Linked DNA regions of Homo sapiens. The protein of the gene in region 2 interacts with the protein of the main gene of each other region in a biochemical or structural test. Each region holds a gene or a part of one and is shown on either strand. Other genes may lie near its edges.

The links.
Region 1: the proteins of TAF7L (region 2) and LRRK2 interact on a protein array, tested with the Homo sapiens proteins (one large-scale study listed by IntAct).
Region 3: of the proteins of TAF7L (region 2) and SRPK2, one has a biochemical effect on the other in vitro, tested with the Homo sapiens proteins (one large-scale study listed by BioGRID and IntAct).

The regions. Positions count from the first base shown.
Region 1 is NC_000012.12:40,227,928-40,231,582, reverse strand, and holds part of LRRK2 (leucine-rich repeat serine/threonine-protein kinase 2), read right to left. Parts: intron 1-3,655. UniProt on the Homo sapiens protein: Serine/threonine-protein kinase which phosphorylates a broad range of proteins involved in multiple processes such as neuronal plasticity, innate immunity, autophagy, and vesicle trafficking.
Region 2 is NC_000023.11:101,267,720-101,271,163, reverse strand, and holds the end of TAF7L (transcription initiation factor TFIID subunit 7-like), read left to right. Parts: intron 1-1,926; coding exon 1,927-1,971; 3' UTR 1,972-2,907; downstream 2,908-3,444. UniProt on the Homo sapiens protein: Probably functions as a spermatogenesis-specific component of the DNA-binding general transcription factor complex TFIID, a multimeric protein complex that plays a central role in mediating promoter responses to various activators and repressors.
Region 3 is NC_000007.14:105,140,854-105,144,508, reverse strand, and holds part of SRPK2 (SRSF protein kinase 2), read left to right. Parts: intron 1-1,178; coding exon 1,179-1,425; intron 1,426-2,018; coding exon 2,019-2,501; intron 2,502-3,655. UniProt on the Homo sapiens protein: Serine/arginine-rich protein-specific kinase which specifically phosphorylates its substrates at serine residues located in regions rich in arginine/serine dipeptides, known as RS domains and is involved in the phosphorylation of SR splicing factors and the regulation of splicing.

The DNA.
Region 1 (3,655 bases), on a different chromosome or scaffold from region 2:
TTTTTTGGTTTTGTTTTTGTTTTTGAGATAGGGTCTCACTCTGTCACCCAGGCTGGAGTGCAATGGTGCAATCATAGATCACTGCAGCCTAGAACTCCTGTCCTTAGGTGATCCACCCACTTCAGCCTCCCAAGTAGCTGGGACTACAGGTATGTGCCACCACACCCAGCTAATTTTTTTTTTTTTTTTTTTGTGAAGACAGGGGTCTCGCTCTGTTGCCCAGGCTGGTCTCAAGCTCCTGGGCTCAAGCAATCCTCCTGACTTGGCCTCTCAAAGTGCTGGGATTACAGGCGTGAGCCTCTGCACCTGGCCCTTAGTAGGTTTTAAGTCATATCTACCTGACAGAATTTCCTCCACATATTTAAAATTTTAATTATAGGAAAAAATGAAGTGGCTTATAATGAAGGATTAGGTGAAGTTGGAGATTTTAGTAGCAAAATGTAAGTTATCAGAATGGCTGCTCCCCAAGTAATGAAGCTAGAATAATAGAGGCAAGAAACGTGGCATTTTTAGCAATTGAATCTACATCTGATAGGAGAAAAAGAGAAAGAGCTCTATAAAATAGACAGGAGGTAGAACTCCTCAATGGCTCCCTCCAGATTTCTCTAGAATGAATTGATAAGGTCTAGAGATCACAGACACCCCTAGTAGGCTCTTTCACATTTCGAAATAAAATATGAAATTATAGATGCATTTTAAGTATATCTTCACTCAGTCTGTTTACAAGATGCCAACTTGACTAAGTTGCTCTTTACCTCTGAAAAAAAAATTGAAAGTCCTGATTTCAAACCGGAGATGAAAATTAACCTATTCTTCCTACTGTAGACTCCTCCCTCTCTAAATGTAAAGGATCTCCAATTCATTCTATTATACTATAGAACTATACTTGACATGGTCAAAAAAAAAAAAAAAAAGAGAAAGTGCATATATGTACCCTCTAGAGACTAATGGAAAAGTATCTAAGTGTGATGTGTAATAAATACCAATATAATAGAAATACTGAAAGTAAGACTCAGTGTGAGTTGAAATTACTCAGAGAAGAATATAATATGAAGAGGTAGAGCTTAAGCCAGATTGTATAAGAACGGATGAGCGGTGAGGAGAGTAGGCTGCTACATGATAAGGAAGCTGCTACAGGGAAGAGGCTATTTTGGGATAAGGCTGGATGCATAAGTAAAGTTGAATATTGCAAGGAGTTGAATGACAAGGTGAGAAATCTATATGCACCCAATAAGGAATAATGGCACAAGTTTCTTACTCGCTTACGGGAGTAAACAACGGCTATTTTAGGAAGATAAAAATGATTACTCAAGATCTCTTTACAATATTACTTTTGGATCTTTTCCAGATTAAACATAAATTGCTTTATTTTGTCATTACTTCCTTTTACATAATTTCAAATTGCTTTCAAAGGCGGCAATTTCTGATAGCTATTTCTACCTATACTACTCAAGTAGGACATCCTCCTCCACGTAAGCTGAACAGACGTTGACAATCCAGCTGTCATAGAAACTGACTATTTTTGTGCTTTCATAGAATACATCAAGACTTTTTTCCGAACTATTTAAGAAAATAACATTCTGAACAGCTTCTGGTGGTAAAAAAAAAAAAAAAAAAAAAAAAAAAAGTCACATAGGATGCCAAACTCATCTCTGTACCTACAAAGCTGACTCAAGGAAAAAACCTGTTTGTTTTGGTTGGTGAAGCAACAGTATCAGTAAACGCTTTGCAAAAAGATTCAGGCAACTGAGCTCTCCAGCACTACATGGAACTTCTGTGATTAAATAGAATCTCTGGCAGCAAAGCAGAGGTAACAATTGATCCATTAATCTATTCAATTAAAAGCTTATCTCTCTAAGAGAGAAGGTTCCCATCTTGCACAGTTACAATACAATTAAATTGGTAGTTTTACTTTATTATAATTATTCTAAAAACTCAAGCATGTAATTAATGCACAACAGGAAAGAGTCTAGGGGTTAAAGAAAAAATTTTAGCCACTTTCATTTATTTTGCTCCCCTTCTTCAAAGGTTGAACCCTTGAGAATAAAGAGATGTAAAATTTAGGAGCACAGTGAAAAGATAGGCAGGAAAAGAAAAATATAAAGCACCTAGCTTAACCGTCAATTTTCTAAAGACTGTCATTTATGAAGAAACATTAATAAAATATGAAACAAACTTTGAAAATAAAACTGGCAGTCTGGAATATCATGTTAAATGGCATCTAGAAACAAACCTTAATCTTTATTTTAAATAGTAATTAAGAATTACTATTAAATTAAATGAAGGAGAAATTTACCTTAATACCTTAAATTTATCATTAAGAGTTTTTCTTTTGGCACTTCCAGCTAATTCAACATATAAAGCAGTAAAGGATACTTACAGTAATTATACTAATAATATAAAGAAATCTGAAGGAAAAATACTACTTTTAAGTGAGTATTAAAATGTCAGTAGGAGACCCCTTTCTACATCCCCTTGTTAAGACCAATGATAATTTAAATTGATGTCATTGTACCTAGCATGGCCACAGTATTTGTATCAAACCATTTTGCTTTTTACTAGCTTGCACAAAAAGCTTGCGAATTCAGCAGCTAGTAGATTGTATGATGGAAAGAGATTTTGAAGGTGTGAGAAGACTTGAGTCTTAGGTCTGTCACAAGCTCTTTGATCCTCAGTGAGCAGCTTACTCTCACTTCGCTATGACAGTAAAACATCCGGTAATATTTCCAGGAGGGCAGTGAGATTTCAGTGAGAATCAAATATTGGCTGTGCAAAAGAAGGAAACTAGATCCACAGCTTTCACCATATACACAAATCATTTCAAAATGGATTAAAGACTTACATCTCAGACCTGAAAATATGCAACTACTAGAAGAAAACACTGGGGAAATGCTACAGGACATTGGTCTGTGCAATGATTTTTGGGGTAGGACCTCAAAAGCACAGGCAATTACAACAAAAATAGGCAAATGGGATTATATCAAGCTAAAAAGCTTCTGCACAACAAAGAAAATAATTAACAAAGTGAAGAGACAACATAAAGAAAGGGAGAAAATATTTGCAAAATATCCATTCAACAAAAGATTAACAACCAGAATACATAAGGAACTAAAAAAACTCAATTAGCAAAAAAAAAAAAAAAAAAAAAAGTCTTATTTTTAAATGGACAAAAGATCCAAATAGACATTTCTCAAAAGAAGACAGACAAATGGCTAACAGGTACATGAAAAAAAAATCCTAAACTTCACTAATCATTAGGGAGAGGCAAATCAAAACCATAATGAGATATTATCTCACCACAGGCAGAATGGCTATTATCAAAAAGACAAAAAATAACAAATGCTGGTAAGGATGCAGAAAAAGGGGAATGGTGGTACACTGCTGATGGGAATATAAAGTAGCACAGCCATGATGAAACACAGTATGGAGGTATCTTAAAAAACTAAAAAGAGAATTTTCATATGATCCAGTAATCTCATCGCTGGGTATATATCCAAAAAAAGAACATCAGTATATCAAAGATATATCTGAACTCCCATGTTTATTGCAGCCCTGTTCACAATAGTTAAAATACAGAATCACCTTATATGTCTATCAACAGATTAACAAAGAAAATATGGAGGCCGAGGCAGGAGGATTACTTGAGGTCAGGAGT
Region 2 (3,444 bases):
TTTAGTAGGTGTCTACTTTAAGCTAGGCTCTACAGGGAGCTATGATATGCTTATGATGTAGTCTCTGTCTTCATTTGGGGAGAAATTGGCAAGAGGGGTAGGGACTTAAAGGAATGACAGATTGTCCATGGATATTAAAGAAGACTTCATGGAGAAGATGGTGTTTGACTGGGGCCTTAAAATATAGGTAGGGTTTTAATAAGGAGATAGGGAAAGGAGTGCATTCCATGAGAAAGCAGCATGCACACTGGCTCAGAGGTGGTGATGCCAGGGTGAACAGTTTAGATTTTTGGTGTAGGTCATAATGAACCTTCAAAGCCTTTTTACCTGGGGAATAACTCAGGAAGATTTTTCTGCCAGAAGTATATAGGAGAAATTGGAGTGGGGACAGCCTGGAGCTTCAAAGGTGCAAGTGGTAGAAGCAAACAGAGCTTAACAATTGATTGGATTTACAGGGCAAAAAGGGGAACAAAGATGAGTCCAAAGCCTGGGAAACTGGGAAATGATGTGCCATTAACTGAAAATAGGATAACAAAAAGTGGATTTGGAGGGGTATGTGGAGAAGTGCTTTTGAAAATGGGAAATTGGAGAGAGGCCCATACACAGAAATGATCATTGAAGCTGTGGGGCTAGTTGAGTTAGCCTGGTTGATTGTTCAGCAAGAAGTCTGAACCTAAGGAAAAACCTATCTATAGGGGGTGGTGGGAAGAGAAAGAGCCTGCAAAGGAGAAAGAACTGGATCAGTCAGTGGTTGTAATCATGGTCAATCAGGGGTCACTCAGCAACTGAGTGAGAAGAGCCTCTAAGTTACTGCGGACAGCAATTATTGTGGCTTGGTAGGTGATGTGCAGCATAGGATTGTTTTATAATGTTCCTTTCATTTCACAGACTAAAAATTCATTCTGGTATGGAGTGTCCTGAAATGAATAATATTCAAAAACAACCTTTGTTGTAAAGATGGCATACATCTCTGAATGTTATTGGTCACTTTACCATTTCAAGTTAAAAAAAAGTAAATCCTATACCACAAAATGTTCAGGGCTTCTAACTTAGAAAGCATTAAGTAGAACATCATCAGGCTCCTGATTGGTCAGGGCTCTGGCTCAGTTTCTAAGTATCTCCTAATGTGGTAAGAAGCAGCTGGTAAGACTCAGTCTAAGACCCATTGTGTTCATTGGGACAAGAGAGTGTCCCAACTGTTTTATCATCTGACTCTTAGAATATGGCTACAGAGATCCCATCTCCTTTGCCCCTACAGTGAGCTGTGACCTCTGTATATTCTTCACAGAAGCACAAATTCTTAACAGCAAAAATATTGTTTTTTTTTAAAGCCTATTCAATTTTAAAGCTTGATATGGTTTGTCTGTGTCCCCACCCAAATCTCATCTTTAATTCCCACGTGTTGTGGGAGGCACCTGGTGGGAGGTAATTGAATCATGGGGGCAGGTCTTTCCCATGCTGTTCTCGTGATAGTGAATAAGTCTCACGAGATCTGATGGTTTTAAAAAGGGGAGTTTCCCTGCATAAGTTCTCCTCTCTTTGCCTGCTGCCATCCATGTAAGATATGACTTGCTCCTCCTTGCCTTCCACCATGATTGTGAGGCCTCCAGCTATGTGGAACTGTAAGTCCATTAAACCTCTTTTTCTTCCCAAACTCAGGTATATCTTTATCAGCAGTGTGAAAACTGACTAATACAAAGCTTCTCTTCATAAATTGGGCATAATAAAGGACATCATCATGGCCACAGCAGTATGCATGCATTCTTGACTGTGGCCAGTATTCTCTGGAACATTGCAAGACTAAGATAACCTTATAAATGCCAAATAACAGTAGTTCTTTTTGGTTCATTTAAGTAAATTCTAGATCAAGTAATGGGACCTCAAATTTCAAATGAATTTTTCATGTCTTTCTACCTCTCCCTACAGCTCATTTCCCTACAGGAACAGTTGCAGCGTTTTCTGAAGAAGTGAGGAGAGCCATTGGCGTGGCCCACAAACCTTGGATTCACCATCCAGACTGCAGATTGGATGAAACTGTGCACGTTTTTGTCCCTTCAGTTGCCTTATGTTGAATCAGTTATATTTATCTGTACCTTCTTTGCTACTTAAAATATGCTCACAGTTTGTAGTCATGTAGAAAAGGCCAGTATAAAAATGTAGTAGACTTAAAGACCCCACTCGACCATGAGACTTTCTCTTTGTCAATTTGGGAATTATTATTATTAATTTAGAAATGGGGTCTTGTTATGTTGCCCAGGCTGAATTCAGACTCCTGGGCTTAAGGGATCCTTCCGCCTCAGCCTCCTGAGTAGCTGGGACTACAGTTGTGCACCACCACACCAAACAAGAATTGATTATATTGCTTCTGTGCTATGGTACCAGCAGATTATTCAGCCATGCTTCTAAAGGCAGTCTAGCCTAGAGGCCGTACAGCTGTTTGGTTTGCATATGTTTTAGCTTTTCTTTTGGTTTTTAGTATTTCCTAAAACATAGGGGAAAAAACGAGGTCATTTCTACTAAGCACTAGGACCTGCCATAGTGAGTTTAAGTGCCTACCTTGCAGCAGTTAATACTAGATTGTGTTCTGTCTCTGTTCAGGTAACAGGACTGCATTCCTGCTCAAGGATGATTCCTTGCTGCTGCTTATGTTCTGTTGTTTTTAGGATGGAGCTGGTTGTTATTCACCAACTAAGGGAACAGTTAGAGCAGAGATGAAGAAATTATGAACTGTTATCCTTATTCTGAGCCTTCTCCTCCTAACCCTCATCAGTTAAGGTTAGGAAGAACAAGATGCCATAATGCCTATGAAGACTTCTTTAACAATCTTGTTTGGGTTTTTTTCTAGGTATATTATTAGTGTTTTATGGTCTATGTTCTTTAAGCAATAAATAAATTGTTCATTTTAAATGGATTGTTGTCAATTTATTAAACCATCCCCCATGATGAGTGTACTCATATCCAAACAGAAACAAGAAGAAAAGCAATAAGCTCTATATCTTAGTTCATTTGGGCTGCTGTAACAAAAATACCATAGACTGGGTAAATATAAACAACAGAAATTTATTGCTTATAGCTCTGGAGGCTTGGAAGTCTAAGATCAAGGTGCCAGCAGCTTTGGCATCTGGTGAGGGGTTTGTCTGCTTCCTAGCGTCTTCGGGGTGCATCCTCACATGACCGCAGGGCAAACAAACTCCCTCGGGCCTCTTTTAAAAGGGCGCTAATTCCATTCATAAGGGTGGAGCCCTCATTACCTAATCACCTCCCAAAAGCCCTACCTCTTAATACTAACACATTACTGATTATATCTTAACATATGAATTTTGGGGGACACATTCGGACCATAGCACTCTGATTAGAAAATGGCAGAAGATGCTATCAGCCTTGGGGCATCCTTCCAGAGTTCTTAGGGTAACTCCTAATAAACTAAGCAAATAAAATCCCAAT
Region 3 (3,655 bases), on a different chromosome or scaffold from region 2:
TGCACTTTGGGAGGCTGAGGCCACTAGATCACTTGAAGTCAGGAATTCAAGACCAGCCTGGCCAACATGGTGAAATCCTGTCTCTACCAAAAATGCAAAAACTAGCTGAGTGTGCTGGTGGACGTCTGTAATCCCGGCTACTCAGGAGGCTAAGGCAGTAGAATCACTTGAGCCCAGGAGGTAACGGTTGCAGTGAGCTGAGATCACGCCACTGCACTCCAGCCTGGGCGACAGAGTGAGACTCCATCTCAAAAAAAAAAAAAAAAATTAGCCGGGTGTGATGGTGTGCACCTGTAGTCCTAGCTACATGGGAGGCTGAGGCATGAGAATCACTTGAACTCAAGAAGTGGAGGTTGCAGTCAGCTGAGATCACGCCACTGCACTCCAGCCTGGGCAACAGAGACTCTGTCTCAAAGAAAACAACAACAACAACAACAAAACACTATTTTTACTGAGACAGCTCTTGATTTGGAATGTAAGTTCTGGAACAAGAGGGAGCTTTAATAATTAAGCTTCCTGGCCTGCTGAGAAGCTCAAGTTGTTTCCCATAGTTCTTCCCTGGCTTGAGCTGCTTGAATTTACTGATTGATTGAAAGGTTGGAGGCTGTCATTGCCAGTGCTTTGCAAGTCAGGTAACCATGACGGGAGGCAGACAAAAGCTGTAGCTTTTTCTTTTTTCCCTTTGCAGCATAGGCTTATCTCTTACAGTTCATGTTGTCTTGGCTGCTAAGAGCTTCATATGTGAGACCCAAACACACAGTGACATACACCTGCTCGGGCACCTGTTTCATTTTTGGCATTGAGGAGCTGGGATGTTGTTACTTTGTATATAGACAGCAGCAAATAAAACTTGCAAGAGGAGCTTCTCCTTTAAGGCCAAGAGAATTTCGAACTTCAGTTCTCTTAGAGTTTGAATGGTGAAGACTTACTGGATTTAAGCTATATCCCTCTGAGGGCAGGACCTGGTAGTAGACCTAGTACGTGATATCAGTCAGCACTGCTTTCCCTTTGATTTTATCGTAAGCCTTACCACAAAGTGGATCTGTCTGGGTTTGGGATTTTAATAGAATATGGCATGAGAAAGCAGAGTTTATTGCTATTTGCCATGCTGCTAGTCGTTATACTATCGTGGTGCTTTAAAAAGAAGAATACTGACCTGTGGTCTTTCCTTAACATAGATAGGAAAAATATCTAAAAACAAAAAGAAAAAACTGAAAAAGAAACAGAAGAGGCAGGCTGAGTTATTGGAGAAGCGCCTGCAGGAGATAGAAGAATTGGAGCGAGAAGCTGAAAGGAAAATAATAGAAGAAAACATCACCTCAGCTGCACCTTCCAATGACCAGGATGGCGAATACTGCCCAGAGGTGAAACTAAAAACAACAGGATTAGAGGAGGCGGCTGAGGCAGAGACTGCAAAGGACAATGGTCAGTGGGGCCTGGAACCTGGGCTGCATGGGGTTCTCAGAGCTCCATTAGTAGGGTTCTGCCAGGTCAACATGGGGGCTGATTTGTGCTGCTGCTGCAGATGACAAGGATGATTCTCTCCAACTCCCTATTGGGAAATATGGGAAATAGCCTCGTACTTCATTTGTGAACTGTATGCCAGAAATATGTTAACATTTCAAAATAGTTTTTAAAAATGTAAAATAATTGAGAAATTCCATGTTTCTATCATGCTAATGATGGTGCTTTATTTTGTCATTAACTTTTTACCTAACTGTAATGCACCACAAGTCTGTTTCTGAAGATTATAGAGGGTAGAAATGGAAGTGCAACTTTATTTAGAAAGAGTTATTTTCCCTTAAAGCTAACTTTTTCTTATAAGAGCAGGCCAATTACTAAATGAATGAAAAATGAGATTTAGAAAACCTGAAGGTTTTACCCCAAAAGCCAAGAGGTGTTTACCAGGTGGTACATAAGCATATTCAAAATGTATTTTATTGATGGAGATAAGTACTTAATGAGGCTGTATTAAGGAGAGTAACAAGTTCTAATTCTTGACCCATCAAATTCTTAAGGTGAAGCTGAGGACCAGGAAGAGAAAGAAGATGCTGAGAAAGAAAACATTGAAAAAGATGAAGATGATGTAGATCAGGAACTTGCGAACATAGACCCTACGTGGATAGAATCACCTAAAACCAATGGCCATATTGAGAATGGCCCATTCTCACTGGAGCAGCAACTGGACGATGAAGATGATGATGAAGAAGACTGCCCAAATCCTGAGGAATATAATCTTGATGAGCCAAATGCAGAAAGTGATTACACATATAGCAGCTCCTATGAACAATTCAATGGTGAATTGCCAAATGGACGACATAAAATTCCCGAGTCACAGTTCCCAGAGTTTTCCACCTCGTTGTTCTCTGGATCCTTAGAACCTGTGGCCTGCGGCTCTGTGCTTTCTGAGGGATCACCACTTACTGAGCAAGAGGAGAGCAGTCCATCCCATGACAGAAGCAGAACGGTTTCAGCCTCCAGTACTGGGGATTTGCCAAAAGGTAAGTGTTTCTTCCCATCAACTGTCTGCCATCGCTGACTCCAGGGACGTGCCTTTAACAAATGCTGTGAAGGAATTGGCTGGAAGTGGCCAAGCCCTGTGTGTGTGTACTGATCAGTTTTATTACTTTTATACTCCTGAAGAAGTAATGTGATTTAAATAAATTTTCTATGCCATTAGGCTATTTCTTGCTCTCTGCATACCAAATCTTATTTCTGACCAGTTTTCATTTTTAATATATTTAGTCAGCAGCATCATTTGCAAAAACCTTCCAGTTTTAGCAACTTACACCTTTCTAGAATGTGTAGTTTAGTTTAAAATTCGTATCTTCTTCCATCTAATGTCATTATATTTAGTTTAGTTTAGTTTTGTTTTGTTTCTATTCAAGAAAATTATGCCTCCTCTTTGACTCTATTGAGAAAGAAGTGTCATATTGTCTTTTGATAGTTGTTCCTGATTATAGGACCCTACTATTGGTAACTGGCCCAGGATTGTAATTTTCAAGGAATTGGCATGGATTTAAATGTGATGACAGATTATAGATTGGCTCTTGTGTTCTTGTCTACCTAAGAAGGCTTGACTTATTCAAAGCCTTATTTTGGGAGTGAATGCCAAGTGACTCTAGTAAGTGAAAACTGGGTAACACAGCTGGTTTCCATACTGGCTTATGGGGGAAAAGCTCTGAAACCTCCCTCTGCTCCCTCTACTGACAAGACTGTTTAACACACAGCGAGTAAAATTGATGAGCCAGCCCTGCAAACAGCCCGACATTCTGCAGCCCCTTTGGTTCCAGCAGTCTGGAATTGCACGCCGAGTAAGCTGGCTTTGTTACGCACTGGCTATGATGAATCCTCCTAAGGATTTGCTTTCTTTACTTGGCTGGACGTGGTCAGCTCCTGTTCCCCTTTCCAGGGAGTGTTTGAAGGTGCTTACATAGAATGTAGGTTAATTTCTGGGAAAGGGCAGTAGTGAGAGGTACCTTATCCAGACTTATTGTTGCTGTTGCAGTTCAATTTTTCTCTTACTTGAAGTTTCTTTTTTTTTTTATGAGATTGAGTCTTGCTCTGTCACCCAGGCTGTAGTGCAGTGGCGCGATCTCGGCTCACTGCAACCTCTGCCTCCCGGGTTCAAGCGATTCTCCCGCCCCAGCCTCCT